Regions from separate parts of the Homo sapiens genome. Here region 1 is linked to region 2. Evidence: fine-mapped expression QTL. A gene starts in region 2. The other region holds a variant in brackets. All regions are shown on one strand. Distances are between the middles of the regions. Region 1 overlaps SH3PXD2A (SH3 and PX domains 2A). Region 2 holds the start of SH3PXD2A (SH3 and PX domains 2A).

The links.
Region 1: its variant is fine-mapped to the expression of SH3PXD2A in whole blood (TOPMed, PIP above 0.99).

The regions. Positions count from the first base shown.
Region 1 is chr10:103,674,044-103,682,366 of GRCh38, reverse strand. All of the region lies in intron 6 of SH3PXD2A (SH3 and PX domains 2A), which reads left to right. Among named protein-coding and RNA genes, the nearest start is that of SH3PXD2A-AS1, 69 kb to the left of the region's middle. RefSeq lists enhancers at 1-386, 3,750-3,919, 3,930-3,989. The variant G/A (reference allele first, on the strand shown) is at 3,374.
Region 2 is chr10:103,851,863-103,860,185 of GRCh38, reverse strand. It overlaps SH3PXD2A (SH3 and PX domains 2A), which reads left to right and starts at 4,610. Exons shown (of 15, transcript NM_001394015.1): 1 at 4,610-4,991. The coding sequence starts at 4,920.

The DNA.
Region 1 (8,323 bases), 180 kb after region 2:
GATTTGGCAACTCTGCGGCCAGCCCACGTGGCGGTGATGCGATGGAGAAAGTGAGTGCTGCTCACGTGTGTGTCTGCGCCACGCTCCCTGGCTCGAGGTGGCTGAGCCCCACTGCCCAATTGGCCTGGACACACAGAGCAAGGCGGAGCGGGGAGGGGGCAGGGGCGTGGCAAGCGCTCCCCGGATCCTGGAATCCCCAGAAGGAGGCAGCTAGTTGGAAGCCTCAATTCCCTCAGCCCTGCTTGCACAGCTGCCTCTGCCCCCTCACTCCTATCACCCAGTTTCTCCTGCTAGGAAAATAGGAAGTTGGTCCAAAAGGGAACTGCATGGGCAAAAGTGAACTGCAGAATCTTGAGTCTGCTCATTGAAATACAGATTCCCAGGGCCTGCCCAGACCTACTGAATCAGCGTGTCTGGAGTGACGCCCAGGTATCTGCATTTTTTCATTTTCTTAAGAGACAGGGTTTCACCATATTGCCCAGGCTGGTCTCAAACTCCCAAGCTCCTCAAGCAGTCCACCCACCTCGGCCTCCCAAAGTGCTGGATTATAGATATGAGCCACCGCATCTGGCCGATCTGCATTTTGTGTGTGTGCGCGCGCGCGCGCGGGCGCGTGTGTGTGTGTGATGGAGTCTCACTCTGTCACCCAGGCTGGAGTGTGGTAGTGCGATCTTGGCTCACTGCAACCTCTGCCTCTTGGGTTCAAGTGATTCTCCCGCCTCAGCCTCCTGAGTAGCTGGGACTACAGGTACCCTCCACAACACCTGGCTAATTTTTGTATTTTTAGTAGAGACAGGGTTACACCATGTTGGCCAGGCAGATCCTCCTGCCTTGGCCCCCCAGAGTGCTGGGATTATAGGCGTGAGCCACTGCACCCAGCCAATCTGCATTTTTGACAGGCTTCCCAGGGCTTCTGAAATCAAGCTAGGGTTGCGTCTTTGATGGGTCATCCATGTGGGTTGATGGCCATGTTCAGGGTAGACAGGCAGCAAGATGGCAGGGGGATTGGCATCCCCAAGATGAATGGTGCCTGGATGATGCCTGGATGGGACTGCTCCTTGAAGAACATTCAGTTGTCTCCTGAGATGGGAGGGTGGGCTACGGGGGCAGGAATGGAGGACAGGACTCCCAAGTCTCTTACCCCTGAAACACAGCCCAGCATTTGGAGTCTTGGAGAATGGCTATCTGAGGGGCCTACCCAGCCCTGACCTGATGAGAGACACCATCTGCCTTTCATTTCCAGAAGGTTTTGTTGCTGGGGGAGGAAATACCCAAATTGTGGTCCAGCAAAGAAATGTTTCCCACCGTGGCCCACGGCCAGAAAGTCACTGGTTCCTCACTTCAGCGTTTGGTTTATAGACACGTGACAGAAGAGGCAACCTTTCCAGTGATGACAAAGCCGGCGGAAAAACAAAGACATGGGGGAAATGTGCATTACTTATTGTTTTAGCACCTTTTTCTAATCTAAAGTTACTTTTAGAAACAGAAAAGTGGTGTGTGTAACTTAGTCGGCACGTGGCATTTTTAGAATTGGTCTGTTTCGAAGTGTGAAAGAAAAAAATATTTTTTTCCTGAGTTTCCATAAAACTTAGAAGTTTACAGGAAAATCATGCTTTTCCCTGACTCTCTTCTTTCTGCCTTGCCCCCTGGATTTCATCATTGCCATGTGTGGCCCAAGCAGCCAGCTTGAAAATGTATTTTGTTATTTATTGTTAGAATAAAGTCTTGCACCAAGACAACTGGGTCATGTTAGAAAGTCCCTTTGCTTCCTTGTGCTCAGAAACAGAGTTTGCTGGGTGTGGTGGTTCACGCCTGTAATCCCAGCACTTTGGGAACCTGAGGTGGGAGGATCACTTGAGCCCAGGAGCTTGAGACCAGCCTGGGCAACCTAGTGAGACCCCTTCTCTACAAAAATAAAAAATTAGTCCAGTGTGGTGGCACACACCTGTGGTTTCAGCTACTCGGGAGGGCAAAGAAGGATTGTTGAGCCCAGGAGGTTAAAGCTGCAGTGAATGGTGATCGCACCACTGCACTCCAGCCTGGGCAATAGAGCAAGACCCTATCTCAAAATAAAACATAAAGAAGGCAGGCCGGGTGTGGTAGCTCACGCCTGTAATCCCAGCACTTTGGGAGGCCGAGTTGGGCGGATTACTTGAGGTCAGGAGTTTGAGACCAGCCTGGCCAACATGGTGAAACCCTGTCTCTACAAAAATACAAAAATTAGCTTGGTGTCGTGGTGGGCGCCTGTAATCCCAGTTACTCAGGAGGCTGAGGCAGGAGAATCACTTGAACCGGGGAGGCAGAGGTTGCAGTGAGCAGAGATGGCGCCATTGCACTCCAGCCTGGGTGACAGAGCGAGACTCTATCTCAAAAAATAAATAAATAAATAAAATAAAAGAGAAGGCAGAGCTGGCCATCTCTTCACCATCCTCCCCCTTGTCACTGCTTCTGGATCCCTGTGAGTAAGGGTGTCCTCAGCTCAGCCCTGGAGCACCTTAGGCTCTTTGAGTGTTGGAAGAGGATCAGGTCTGGGTACATAACTTCCCAGCTGGAGGGTCAGATCCTTGCTATGCTAAGCAGTGATGACAGGCTGGTGACAACAGACCAAACTAAGACTGTCTTTGTATGTTGGCAATGGCCCCCCCAGGGGGACCTTGCAAATATGCAGATTTTAACATCCCTCATTTCAGATCTGTCAGGGTGGGACAAGTTCTTCTGGCCTGTGAGCTCCTGCCATACACAGTCCTGGAGCCTGCTGGCTCTGAGTTGCTCATTTGCATTTGGCCACAGGGTTCTGGTCAGGGGAACTCCCCTCTCCCCCACCCTTCCTCCATGACTTGGCTCGCTCCTTCTGCTCCAAGCCCATGGCTCAGTGGACACTAGGCAGCTGTCTCCTGGGGCGCAGGGAGGGTACCCTTGAAGGCTAGTGGATAGGAAGCAAGTTTCTGAATGGACACTGGTACTAGGTCTTCCTTCTGGGATGAGGTGGCTCCTTCCAGACTAAAGCTGGCTTTTCTGGCTCTGGCTGTGCCTGCCTTCTAGGTTTGTCTACTGCACATCTGACAGGTCTTGTGATGGAACCTCAGTGATACCAAGATGGAGACAATGAGGTCCTTGTCCTCAGAGGACTCCTGGCCAGATGGGGGAGGTGGGCAAGGAAACAGCAGTTTTAAAACAGTGTCACAAGTGCTGCACGGGGCTGGGGCCACGCCATGTAGGGGTCTCTGAGCAAGGCACACAGACCTGCATGGCTGCTGAGCCTAATTTACTGAGCTTTCTAAATGGGTCAGCTGGGTGAAGAGGACAGTACCTGTGCAGAGGACATCTGTTCAGTGGTAGGAGCCACTGTCCCCATGTGCCACGTCTTCCATGT[G/A]GGGCATCTCTTTCATAGCCCTGGAGCACCTACTGTGTGGTTCTGTTTCAGAGGAGCTATTGCAGATTGCTACTTGTTCAATAAAATTATTGAAGTTTAAAATGTTCTAATTAATATGTGTTGGCCCAGGAGCCACCTCCCACCTTTTCCTTATTGTTAGGAAGAGCCCAGCCGTTTCCTGGGAGACAAAGGAGGCCATGAATCTTGACTCCTTGTGATTCCAGGATCACTGTCCTGCAGCCAGGTTCCTGACACTAGGAGATGCACATGAAATATCCTCCATCAGGGAAGGAATCTCCCTCCAGTGAGAACTCCCGAGAGGCTGATGATTGACCAGGATTGACAGGACAGGGAAAGAGCAGCCCTTTCACATCCCAGGTCAAGACCAGTGAGGCCCAGAGAAGTGTCCCAACCTTCCCACGCTGGGAAAGGCAACCAGGGCCAGGGCTGAGCACTGAGCACCAGGCCTCCTTCCTGGCTTCTCCCCTCTCTGGAAGCTTAGCATTAGACAGAGCCGCCGAGCTGTGGTGCTGAAGGGTTAACTCGGGGCTCCCCAGAGAGCCGCACACTCCCGACCCTCTCATCTTCCAGGCCCTCTCAGCTGCAGCCTTCTGGGCATAGCTGGGTCACGTGAGAGCCAGATGTGGGGATTTCCCAAGCAGTGGTGTGTGCGTGCGCACTGCGTGCATGCACAGCTCTGTTTACGTGGCATCTCAGCGCTCAGGGGATTGGTCTGGACCCACGCAGAGGAGGGGAGGGATGGGGTAAGGAAAGGCTCAGGGGCTCCCAGCAAACACCATGGGAGGCTGCACCAAGCCCTGCTCCCCCCAGACATTACACATGAACGGGTCGTTCCTGCTCCGGCTCCTGTTTCCTGTAGCGTCCATCCTGCCAGAGACTGTACTGCTTAGGGGTAATTTTTCTAAAAATCTCTTTGAAGGGCATTAAAGCAGATGCTGGGAGCCAACGCCCTTCAGGGTGTTCTGCAGGCTCGGAGGCCTGCACGGGAGCCACTGTGCCCAGCACAAGCCAGGCCTGTATGCCTGTATGTGGTTCCGGAGGCCAAGCCTGGACTAGAGAGGGCAGAGCCGTGGGTATCAAGAGGGTCCTGGGGCAGTGGGGTAGCCGGGCCTCAGTTTTCCATGCACCCTTGGGCTTGAGAGCAGTGAGTATTCATCTTTCCATCAGCCACTGAGGGTTAATTGGGCACCTCCTGCATTCAAGGTGTTGTGGGGTGCTGACAGGGATAAGGCCTTGAAGGAACTAAAGGTCTGATTGAAGAGACTCATAACAAATCTTTAATAAGCACCTACTATGCGCTATGCGCTTGCTAGGACTATAGCCCTAACCAGACGTTTGGAGCCAGTGGGAACAGTCAGTGAACAAAGATCCTGCCCAGGGCATGATAAGGGAGACAGAAAACCTTGAAAAGTGGGTGTCCTCAACCTCAGTCCAGGAATGAATTCTCCTCCTACCCCTGACCCCCCATCCCCACCCCTGTCTTGCACCAGTGGATGGCAGCGTCCAGCCAGATGTCCCTGAGGCTCCGTGAGCCCTACCCCAAAGATGGGTCCAGTTATACCTTCAAGGCCTCCAGGACTCAGCCCTGCCGTCTCCTCCCTCAGACCTTCCGGGACCCAGCCTGTCTCCCCAAACCTACATGACTCCTGAAGCAGACAGGAATGCTGGGGACGGTGTCTGTGGTTGTGTGTCTGATGCTTTGAGACAGAGGGTGGAGAGTCAGATGGTCTCAACCAGGGGCCGTTGATGCTCCCGAAATAGTTGGCGGTTGATTCATTGATAATCCGATAGCAAGAGTCCAGTCTGGAGAGAAGGAGACATTCCACATTTTGTTGTCCGGGGAGGGGAATGTCTGTCCTGAGTCCGTTGCTATTGACTCCATCACTCACTCGCGGCTCTCAGGGAGACTGAGCCAGGGAGGAGGCGGATTGCAAGACTCGGGGCTGGAGACCAGCGACTGCTGACTTCATCCCACTGCCCAGCCTCTCTGCTGCTCCTTCTCTGTGTGAACGCAAATACTGGCTTTGGCTCGGGCTTCTGGGGGAGCTGGAGGGTGGGGGAATTGGAGGGAGGATCTCCCAGTAAGTGAGGGAGGACCACCAAGGCAGGCCACCCCAGGGAGGGAGGTGGCTGGGATCCTGGAACTCAGAACAAACTTGAGTTTGTCTCTTCTCTGCACACAAATGCCCTGGGGTGGGGAGAGGTGAGAACCTGAGAACTGAGGGGGAGGCCGCAACCCAAGGGGCTGCCATGGGTTGGGCAGCAGCTGCTGGGATCAGAGAGGCTCTGAACCTGCCAGCCTCCCTGGCCAGCACCCCTCTGTCCACCCACGGCACCTCTCACTAACCCAGCACCTATCTTTAACCAGGAAGCTTCCGGTCTTCTCAGCAGGGTGGAGGGAGGTGACAGAACTACCTGCTACTCCCTGCCAGGGCAGCCCCTTCTAGGCAGCCTCAGTGCTCCTAGGGCATCCTTGGCTTCTCCGTCCACACCCACTTAGGCTGGGCTGACCCTTCTGGCCCCAGGCTTGGCCTAGGCAGGCACCCTTGGACTTAGTCCCTAAGGGGCTGTGGAGGGTCTCCAGGCCCAGCCCCCACTGCACCCCATCCCCCGCCTGAGCAGGGAAACTGCTCCTTGACTGCATAACCCAGGGCCAGAGGGTCAATAGTGCATTCCTACCCTGGGTTGGGCTGCCCCCACACGTGTTCTGGATTCCAGGGAATGAGGCAAGTCCTTTCTTGCTGCATTTACGAAAAGCAGCAGAAATAAAGAAAGCCTTGGCCAGTGGCCAGGGAGGATCAGAAAATGACATCCCCCATGAGGACCCTTTGTTCCCAATTCCTGGCCAGCCTGCCTGGGCTTAAGTCTGATGCCATCACTTCTTGCTGTAGGGCCTTGGGAAAGAACCTTAACTTTTCTTTTTTTTTTCCCCCGAGACGGAGTTTCGCTCTTGTTGCCCAGGCTGGAGTGCAATGGCGCGATCTCGGCTCACTGCAACCTCCGCCTCCCGGATTCAAGCAATTCTCCTGCCTCAGCCGCCCAAGTAGCTGAGATTACAGGCATGCACCACTATGCCTGGCTAATTTTATATTTAGTAGAGATGGGGTTTAACATGTTGGACAGGCTGGTCTCGAACTCCTGACCTCAGATGATCCACCCACCTCAGCCTCCCAAAGTGCTAAGGTTACAGGCGTGAGCCACCGCACAAGGCCAGAGCCTTAACTTTTCTGTGCCTCACTTTCCTCATCTGTAAATTACAGACTGTTGTGAAGATTAAACAAGAAAATGCTCATAAATGTTTAGCACAGCACCTAGCATGAATGTTAAGTAAGTGGAAACTGGTATAATTATTCTAGCTCCAGCCCTACGACTTATTTGCTGTGTGATCTTAGGCAAGTCTCTTCTCCTCTCTGGTTCTGAGACCCTAAATAGTCCTTCCAGCCTGTGGGGGTACCACCAAGAAGCCAAAGATGTAGCAGAGAGAGGGGACCTGGAGACAAACAATGGCCTGGCTTTCCATTTGGGATTTGCTTTCTGTCTTTAAGAAGATATCCATCAGAAATTCAGCTCTACTAGATTTCTTCTTGAGTACTTCTGTTTATTTAGCTCAGTGGCCCCAAACCCTCAGGTCTTGGGCATAGCTAGCTACATAATTTGCAGGATCCACTGCAAAATGAAAATGAAGACTCTCTCATTCATAAATTATTGATGAAACCCCTGACAGAAGAGCATTAAATCAGCTGCAGGGACCCTTCTAAACCTGGGACCCTAGGCCACTGCCCAGATCACACCTCCACGAAGCCAGCTCTGCCTTGGAGGCTCTGAGTGTAGGAGCAGGCCTGGGGTCCGAGCTGCTGCAATAACAGTATTCACCCCTCGCCCTCCAGTGCAAGGGCACTCTTTTTTCATGCCATGGGTATCTCTGACCAGCTGGCTGCTGCTTATCCTGGAACAAGCTTTTGTAGAGTTGCCCACATCAGAAGCAGCTCACACACTAAACAACTGCCCCCTGGACCAGACTTCCACCCAGGTGTGCTTGGATTGGAAGTCATACCTGAACTATTTGTTTTCTGTCATCTTAATTGGTGTTTGTTTTTGTTTTTTTGTTTTGTTTTATTTTGTTTTGTTTGTTTGTTTGTTTGTTTGTTTTTAAGAGACAGAGCCTTGCTCTGTTGTCCAGGCTGGAGTGCGGTGGCGTGATCTCAGCTCACTGCAAGCTCCACTTCCCAGGTTCAAGCAATTTTCCTGCCTCAGCCTCCTGAGTAGCTGGGATTACAGGCATACACCACCACGCCTGGCTAATTTTTGTATTTTTAGTAGAGACGGGGTTTCACCATGTTGGCCAGGCTGGTCTCAAACTCCTGACCTCCTGATCTGCCTGCCTTAGCCTCCCAAAGCACTAGGATTACAGGCGTGAGCCACCGCGCCCAGCCTGGTGCCATGTTTTTTAAGACTTTTAAAGAATTACGAATTGGCCATCCGTGTTTTTCCCAGATGACATTCACGTGGCTTTCACTGTTACGCCTCAGCTTCTGCTGCTCTGAGCATGACAACCTGTTTCAGGTCCTCTAAAGTGAGTATCACATAGGCCAAACTACTTTGTAAAGGACCGATAACCCTGTTGGGCTGTCGTAAAGATATGAGTTGCTGTGTGCCTATACAGTAGTGCCTACCACAAGGAAGTGCCCTGTTCATGGCAACAATGACAATTACTGTTACTACTGAATAATAGGACTAGCATCTCTTAGGCCCTAATTATTTGATGGCCTGAAAGTGGTGGCCGAATTTCCTGGTTTCCTAACCAGAAAGGAAAAGAAACGTGGAGTCTGCAGGAAACCTAAGAAATCTAGCCCTGTACAAAGTTTAGTTGTATGGGAGAGGAAAGGCTTAAACTGCAGCAGTTATTTAGAAACCAGTTCAAAACTGCAA
Region 2 (8,323 bases):
AGACTGTATGAAACCACCCACACTCGTTCCTGAAGGTCTTAAAACACAATGCACTAGTTTGGGGGCCAGATGTCTGGTCAGGGTTAGGGATGCAGCCTGGAGTTATGGAATAATATTGTTTTCCTCTGTGAATCTAATTATGCCCTTGGCCTCTTTGGCTGTGCAAGTTCCCGGATTTCCCTCTGGTATTCCAGGGCGTGACCACTTGCTAAGGCTGGAATTTCAAGTGGTTCTATCAAAACCTGCTGCTGCACACGGACCCTCACCGGAATCCAGGCTAAGACAGGAGAGTGAGACTCTCAAGGGACCGTGTAAAGAAGCATGTTGAGATTTTGCTGATGAACTTACTGTGCTGGGTGTCAGACGGAGGCGGCTTCCACCATCTGGTAGTTTGGCAACAGGAGGGGCCTGTTAGTATGGCTAAAATTCGTGAACAGTGGGGCTGGGTGGTAGGGCAGTTCTGGGGCCATATCCTGGTCCTGTTCCCCAGCAAGGAGAGGAGAAGCCTGACAAGCAATTTACTTCCCTGGGCAGTTGGCCTTGCTGTCTGCTCCACACTCCGGTGGGACCGTCCTCAAGACACTCCCCAAACATAAGTCAATAAATATATCAGGGCTGATTTGAGAGAGAAAGGGAGTGGGGGAGAAGAAAAAGGAGGAGGAGGATGAGAAGAAGCAGAGACAGAAGCATGAGCGCTGGACCGCTTACAGTCTGTAGAAGGGCAGGTTATTCGTCCCAGGCCCTCCTGCCTGTCCCTGTGGCAGGAGGTAAAAGTGCTAAAACCACTTTGGCCAGAAGAGGGCCCCAAATTTCACTCAAATTTACACAACTCGGGGAGAGTCTTGCTAGACCTCAGTTTATGTAAGTTATCCACCACTGTACAGCATGGAAAGGGCCAGAAAGAGCACCAGAGACCCAGACGTGGGAAAGAACTTCAAGGTCACAGGCTGGTTTGTGGTTAAGCCAGGAGTAGAACCCAGGTTGGGTAATTCCTGCTCTGAGACTCCAATTCTTCTTCTTCTTAGGCATTACTTAGCCCCAGCATTATCTACAAATATCTGCTGAGATCCCAGTAATTTAAAAAGACAACCATTTATTGAGGGCCTGGCATGTATAAAGCTCTGCGCTGGGTGGGCAGGTGTGTGTGGCAGGTGACAGAGGTGCTGGATGATGGGGGTGGGGAGGGAAAGGGTGGTGTCCATGTCTAAGTTCATGGTCCTCAAGGCCTTCAAAGGCTTCTTACTGGTTTAGAAGGCACAACCTAAAGCACAGGAAAGTTAAATAACAATAAAAGATATAAATAAGGTTCAATACAGTGAAGGCTGAGCTGTCATAGGGTGATGTATGATTAGTAAACAAATGTATGATTAGCAATTGTCATTCGATTTCTGAAGAGGAAGAGAAGGTTCTCTTGTGCTTTCATATAGCCCACTGTGGTTTCCAGTACTTTCCTGCATGTTGTCTTCTTTGGGGGTGGTCACAAAGACCCTACATGGGAGAGGAGGTAGGGCGGGTTCTGCTTTAGGGGAGCTGATGGAATTTGCACGTACACAGAGGACCATGGAGACACACACGGCCTCTGCTCTAGAGGATTGTACAGTCCTCTTTATTGGGAAGTCCAGGCATCACGAGTTCATATGCTTGTGTGAATGGAGAACTGGAACCAGGGACTCCAGGGTTTGAGTGAATGCAACATTCTAGACCTGCAGGTGTGCTAAGTGTGCCCTTTAAACAAGCTCTTCTTGCCCTAGTATAGGCACATAAATGTGGAGGGGAAAGACAGCGGGCTTTGGACTAACTGGCTATGTGGCATCAAGCAACTTGCTTAGTTTTTCTTGGCCTTGGTTTCTTCCTCTGTAAAATAAGAGAAATAAATAACCTCTCTTGTCCCTTCTAGTTGGAAAGTTCTTTGATTCTAAGCATTCTACAATTACCTGTTTTCGAAAATCAGATTTTCAGGTATCAGTTTGCATCTTTATGTTGGCTTCTCTTTCCCTTACTTATCCTAAACTTAAAAAAAAATTTGCAATTATATTTTGTCATTTTTAACTCACACAATGTCCTTAGGTTGGAGTCATCTCCAGTTCATGGGCGGAGGTGGCAAAATAGGGGTTTCTCTAATCCTTTCTAGCACTAGCTCTTTGAGCAGATGTTTTCAACACAGGCCATCCTATATACCTACTGTGTGCCACGCATAGTTGGGGTATTTAATGAATGATGCACAGTCCTTGTTTCCAAGGAAACTTCCCCCAGTCTCTGTCATTTTTGGGGGATTGCCAGGCACATGTGAGGCATTCAATAAATGTGTATTGAACAGAAAGGAATTCCCAAGGCACTGTGGGAAATAAATCTGCATGAGGTTGAAATGTACCCAGAGAAGAGATAGCCTGCACCATTTCATACTTAAATCCCCTTGGACATACGGCCCCAGTACAGAAAAGACATTTTTCTCCCACAGGTAGAAATAACTTCTGCCCAGATCTTGGCACCATGGGGTTGAGTGGGGAGCACTCAGTTGCTCCCTCCAATAAAGGTAATTACGGAACAAAGGGGGAAGTTGGGAGTATGCTCAAGTCAGGCTTAAAGGCCTGAATTTATAAAATGTCAAGTTGCAGGGAGTCTTTTAGGCAGGAGAAAGGCTACCACTTTGTAGGCCGCTAGGAAGTGGGGAAGAACTGGGCCCTCTCTCCTACAAATTTATTGTGCTTGGTGTGTTCATTGTGGATCTGGGTCCGAAAGAAGGGTAATAAGGAAACCACTAGTGCTGTTTTAGATGAGCTGACTGCTTTGATTCACAAGGGGACCCAAATCAAACTAAACCCCCTCCTCTTCTTCCCCCCACAACAGCTAAACACCAGCTCCCCTCGCTGGTGGCTTCTCAGGTTTTATTAGCACTTCCAGAAGACTTTGCCATCCACAGAAGACGAGTTATCCGAGAGCCATGATGAATCTCTTCCTCACAAACTCACAGGCTGTCTTGATCCATCATCAGAGAGGACCTGGAGCTGGCCAGCACCCTCCCAAGTTCGGGAGCTCAATATGGAGGGCCCGTTCCAGGTCTACCTCTCATCCCTTCAGGGAATAATCCTTGCTCATGGAGGTAGTGCCCTGTCCTCCCATTTTCCCATCAGCTGAGCAACATTACCAGGTGCACCTTCCCCCAGGACTCCTGCTCCAACATTCACAAAGGTTTTCTGTCATCTTCTCTGACCAAGAAGCTCTGGCCTGGTGCCAAGATCTCTCACAGTCTGAGCCCCCTAGGCCCATCCATCTTTTTTTTTCTTTGTCCCGTGCCATCGTTTGGTGTCCTAGCGCCCTTCCCCAGGAAGGTTGGAGGAATAGTGGGTTACTCTGTATGGAGCAAATATGTGAATAAATAAAGCCTTAGATCTGTGCCTGGGTTCTGACAGTCTAGAGAACGCGCAGAAGAAAGTATTAATGCAATTAGGTCACAAAATTATTTGTCCTCTTTTCAGATGTTTCACATTGGTCCACAGTCACAAAGCTTTATTGTGATTGTGTAACAACTGGAGTAGTTGTGAAAACACTACCCTTTAAATGTTTGAAAGCAGAATGGGAAAAAAATGTTGAACTAGAAGGGGGGAAGCTACATTGAATTAAGTAGTAACTGTGCTCCAAGTCCAGGGACCACGGACAAGTGGCTTGGAAAGTGGGTTTTCCAGACTAGAGGGAGGGGTGAGAATGCCAGAGCCTGGGGCTCACGGTGAGCTGGCCTCCAACCGGGTGGGTTTTCCCACCATTGTATGCTCCTTTCCCTGTCGCCAGCTTGGGGAGGGTCCCCAGGGGAGCCCTGGGCTTAAGGCAGTGGTGTTATGCAGAGTCTGTAACGTTGTCATTGGTAAATGATGCACAGGGTAGTTACACAAGCCCAGATCGATGGACGACTCAGGCAACGAATCGATCACTTTTCCGGGGAGAATTCACCCTTTATGACCTGCAGAGGGTCAGGTGGTTCGTCCAAAGAGGCTCTGGCTTGAAGGATTTAAAGCTGGCCTTTTCCCCATTCCCATCTCCTCCTCGGGGGCCTGGGCAGTAACAGCCGGGTAATAAACTACTTCTCATTAAAGAGATCTGGGGGTGGAAGTTGTAGGGGGACATAAAAGTGGGGACAAAAAGGCACAAATCCGCTCCGAGGCGGAAAGCCAGGATGGGGGCGCGCGGGGCTCACTTTCCCCGCTCCCTCTCCCCCCGAAGCCACCCTGAGTTTTTGTGCCTAGCGAACTAGCCCGGTGCTGCGCCAGGCCGCTGGCTGCGCGCTGGGCTCGGGTGGGGGCTCGTCGGCCCGCCCCTGCCACTGGGGCCGGGCTGCAGCCCCCTCCCCGTCGCCCCGAGCCCCTCCCCCGGCCCGGAGCCCCTCCCCGCGCGCTTCCCCTCTCTCCCCTCCCTCCCTTCCCTTCCCTGCCTGCCAGGCCCTGCCTCCGCCTCCTGCGCCCACAGCCTCCGCCAGCGCCGATCCCCCCGGAGCCCGAGCCGGAGAGCGGCGAAGGGGAGCCGCCGGCCCCTCCCCAGGACGCTGACAGCAGGCTCCGGGGCCCCCGCCCCGTCCCCTCGCCGACGGGACACACCCCCGCCCCTCCTCTGCTCCGCCAGTTCCCGCCGGACCCACCGGGCGGCGGAGAGAGCGAGCGGGCGAGCGCAGCGCGGCGGCCGCGCGGGAGTGAAGGGGCGCGCGGCAGGCCGGCGGGGAGTCCCCCGGGGCGCACGGAGCCCGCGCGCCCTCCGGGACCCTCCCCCGTCCCTGGGCCGGACCTGTGGGCGCCGGGAGTCCGGGCAGCGTTCGGCGCGCCGGGCCGGGGTGGCGGGCGGCCCCGGGACCCCGGCAGCTGGAGAAGGAGCCGGAGCCCGGCCGGGATGAGAAGGTGACGCCGCCGGGGGCGCCACTCGCTTTGTGGGGGAAGATGCTCGCCTACTGCGTGCAGGATGCCACCGTGGTGGACGTGGAGAAGCGGAGGAACCCCTCCAAGCACTACGTGAGTACAGCCCCCGCCGACCCTGCTGGGGGTGGCCCGAGGTCCCGGGAGGGCCCCGGATGGCCCCTTGCCCCTCCCAGCTGTGAGGTCGCGAAGCTAAGCGCCCACTGGGCAGCCAGCAGCCGTGGAGTTTCTTCGCAGGGCTGTGATCTCCAGGGAAGCCTCTTCTGTCCTTCCTCCTTCGCACCCCCGCCCCCCCGGTTTCTTTTTTTGGCATTGGAATTGGCAAGTGGCTGCCCTTGTCTGTTACAACGGTGAAGTCATCTGTCCGCCTTTGATGGATGGTGGGGGGAGCTTTCGTCAACCCCTCACAGAGCAGCCCCGTCGGGAAAGCGCATCTCCTCGGCCCTCCCCAGGGGCCCTGGGCGCTCACGCTCACACAGCCCGAGATGCTTTCAGAGCTCGCCCTGGAGAAGGAAGCCTCGCGCCCTGCCTCCCACGCCAGCTCTGTCTCTGCCTTCCTAGGCCTGGGGCTGGGGGCAGAAGGAAGCCGCCGCCCCCTTGCCCAACCTCCACCCTCCGCGCTAAGCTTTGATTTCCCTCATAAAGCCATTGTGTCCGTCGGTGTGAGGAGAATTGTGGCTTTTCCTTTTATCCCTCCTCTGGACGTGACCCTTAACCGGGTTCATTTCCTCTTAAGTGATGCTCCATCTCCAGACACGAGGAGGCGAATGTTTGCTGTGGTCTCCGAGGAACCGCCCCTCCCCCTTCCTCCCCCAAACTTTAATGAGAAGGGGTTAAGGTTGACTGGGGCAGCTCCAGAGCCTATGTGACAGTTCCCCTTTCATCTCAGCCGGTCCTGTCTTCCCATCCCTCACACCTTAGGAAGTAAACACGGTGTCCTTGACCCCTCTGAGCGTCTGTGCTCCTGTACTTGAGATAGAAGAGACCCAAGCACAGAGGACTGCATGTTATTTGCAAATTGGGTATTTAGAGGAGCAGTTCCAGTGCTCAAAGCATTAATCTTAACAGTTAAAACAGGCGCTGGTTGCTGCCCTGGATTGTACATTGATCTCTGAAGTGCCTTTTCTTCCACTGTTGCAAAGGGACTGGGGTTTGTGGCAATGTCAGCCTCGGGCTACTCTTTTTGCCTTTGTCACCAGTGTAGCTCTGAACTTTGAGTTTCTTTACAGCTGAGCAAATGCGGCTGGGCTCATATGGGGAGGAGGTAAATGTGGAGGCAGGTTGACTAGGCAGGGAGGTGGGTGCCTGTCGGGTCCAGTCCCTGACACCCTTAGAGAGTTGTTTCTTTTGTGTCATCTGGTCCAGCAAGCATTTTCTGCTGCTGTTACAAGAAAGCTCTTTTTGGAGGGCTTGGGTCACCAGGTGGTCAACCTGCTCTGTGGACAGATGTCCCTTTGTATATCCCAGGGTTTATTTTTCTCAAATGTTGCAGGCTAAGTTTTAAGGGTTCTCATTTGTAGTCCTCAGCTGAGCTTGGCACTGCATTCAACAGATGGCACTCTGCTCTGAGACCCAGGCAGGTGCGTTTCCAACTCTGGATTTTAAATGAAACATCACATTTCAGCTCCCACCGATGGTGCCCAAGGTTGCAGATGCAGGACACACTGGTAACAAACTAGAACCGGGGCCCACTGCAGACAGGATTGAAAGGCAAGATTGCGTGCTGGGGTTCTGAAGTTAGACGGTCTTGCTCAAAGCCTGGCATGCAGCCAGTAACTAGCTGTGCCACCTTGGCAAGTTATTTAAACCTCCCCCAGCCTCAGTTTACTCAATTTCAAGTAAGGATAATAATAGTATGTACTTGTTGGGAGAATTAAATGAGATCATCTATGTAAAGCACTTAGCCCAGTTCCTGGCACGCAGTAAGCTCTTATTAAATGGTAGCTTATTATTGGTGAGATTCTGACTAAGAAAGTATTTTTGAAAAGCAGCTATTAATGGTCTGGCAAAAAGGAAGAAAGATTTTGGGTTTTAAGATTGATAATAACTTGTTCTATGTGAAAAACACAAAAGAAGTCCTGTCCAGTTCCCTCGAAATGATCATTTCCTTCCTTTTTACAGACAAAGTGTTTCCCGGGACATCTCCGCTTCCCGAGTAAGAATCGATGACATTATGTTTGGGGGGGCAGGGAGTGATGTCACTGAACAGATGGGGCCATGCAGAGTTCTGAACTAGAGTTCTGGAAAACACTGAGAGGAGAAAGTGTTACATGTTGTGGAATTGTGGAACGGGCAGAGACCCGAAGACTCATCTGGCTCAACTCCTTCATTTTACAGATGAGGAAATGGAGAGCCAGATTGGGTAAAGTAACTTGCAACACAGCTGCTCACAGCTGGGTTTTTTTCATTGCATGTACCCTAAGTCCAGTTGGGTTTGGCTAAGAGGACAAATAACTGGTGGTCAAAAAGTTTCTACCCATTTGGGGCATTGTATATATTAATACATAACATAAGCATATCCAATAATTGAAAGGGGGAAAGAAAGCAATAGAAAGGGCCTGGTGGGACAGACAGGGGCAGGAGGAGCGGGTTTGGGGAGGCTGCAGCCTCTTCCTCTCCTGGCCCTTGCACGGTGAATACCACACACCAAAAGCTCAAGTGTTGTGAGTAAGGCCCTCTGGTGTGGTCAGCTGGCAGGACGTGCTGCACCCATTGCCTGTGTTCTGGAAACCCTCTACACTGGAGGAGCAAGCCTCCTTCCAGCCTTTCCTCTGCTGATGGTGAATTCTGAGTCTGTGGTTTGGTAAATTGCAGAGCAGAGAGGTTTTACGGGATGTGCGTGTTAGCCAGAGCTAGCCGATGAGAGGCCTGGGGCCCACGCAGGAGGAGCTCTGCTGGCTCCAGAGTGCTGGGAACACACTGCAAAGGTTCTCTCAGGACATTCTGCAAAGGGTTTGCTCATCCCCACGGGGAGGGGGAGCTGCCTGAACACGAAGGGTCCTGTGCTTTCGGTCAGTTCATGAAGGCACGCAAGTAGCTTCCATCATGGGGATGGCACTCAGCCCTGGCTTCCTTCTTCTCTGCCAGGCCCCTGCTTGGGGTGGGGTTGAGAAGGGCAGGCAGCTGCTACTAAGGTCAGGCTCCCTGGCATGAAGCTAGGCTCCTTTCCTGGCTTTCTGAGCTGTGCCTGGGGAGACCCTAGGTAAACTGGCTTTGGCCTCTGACCGCTTGTCTTGAAAATGGTCCTGATGATGCTGGATGCAGAATGCAGATTCCTTCGTTTGAAAGTTTTTCAGTAAAGATTTGAATTCAGGTCCACCGGGTTCTTTGTGCTCACAGGCAGGTATAGGTATATATCAATTCATGTGGTAGAGAAAAGCTCGTTTATCTAAAACAAACAAGAAATTGTATCTATTTGGATTTGGGAG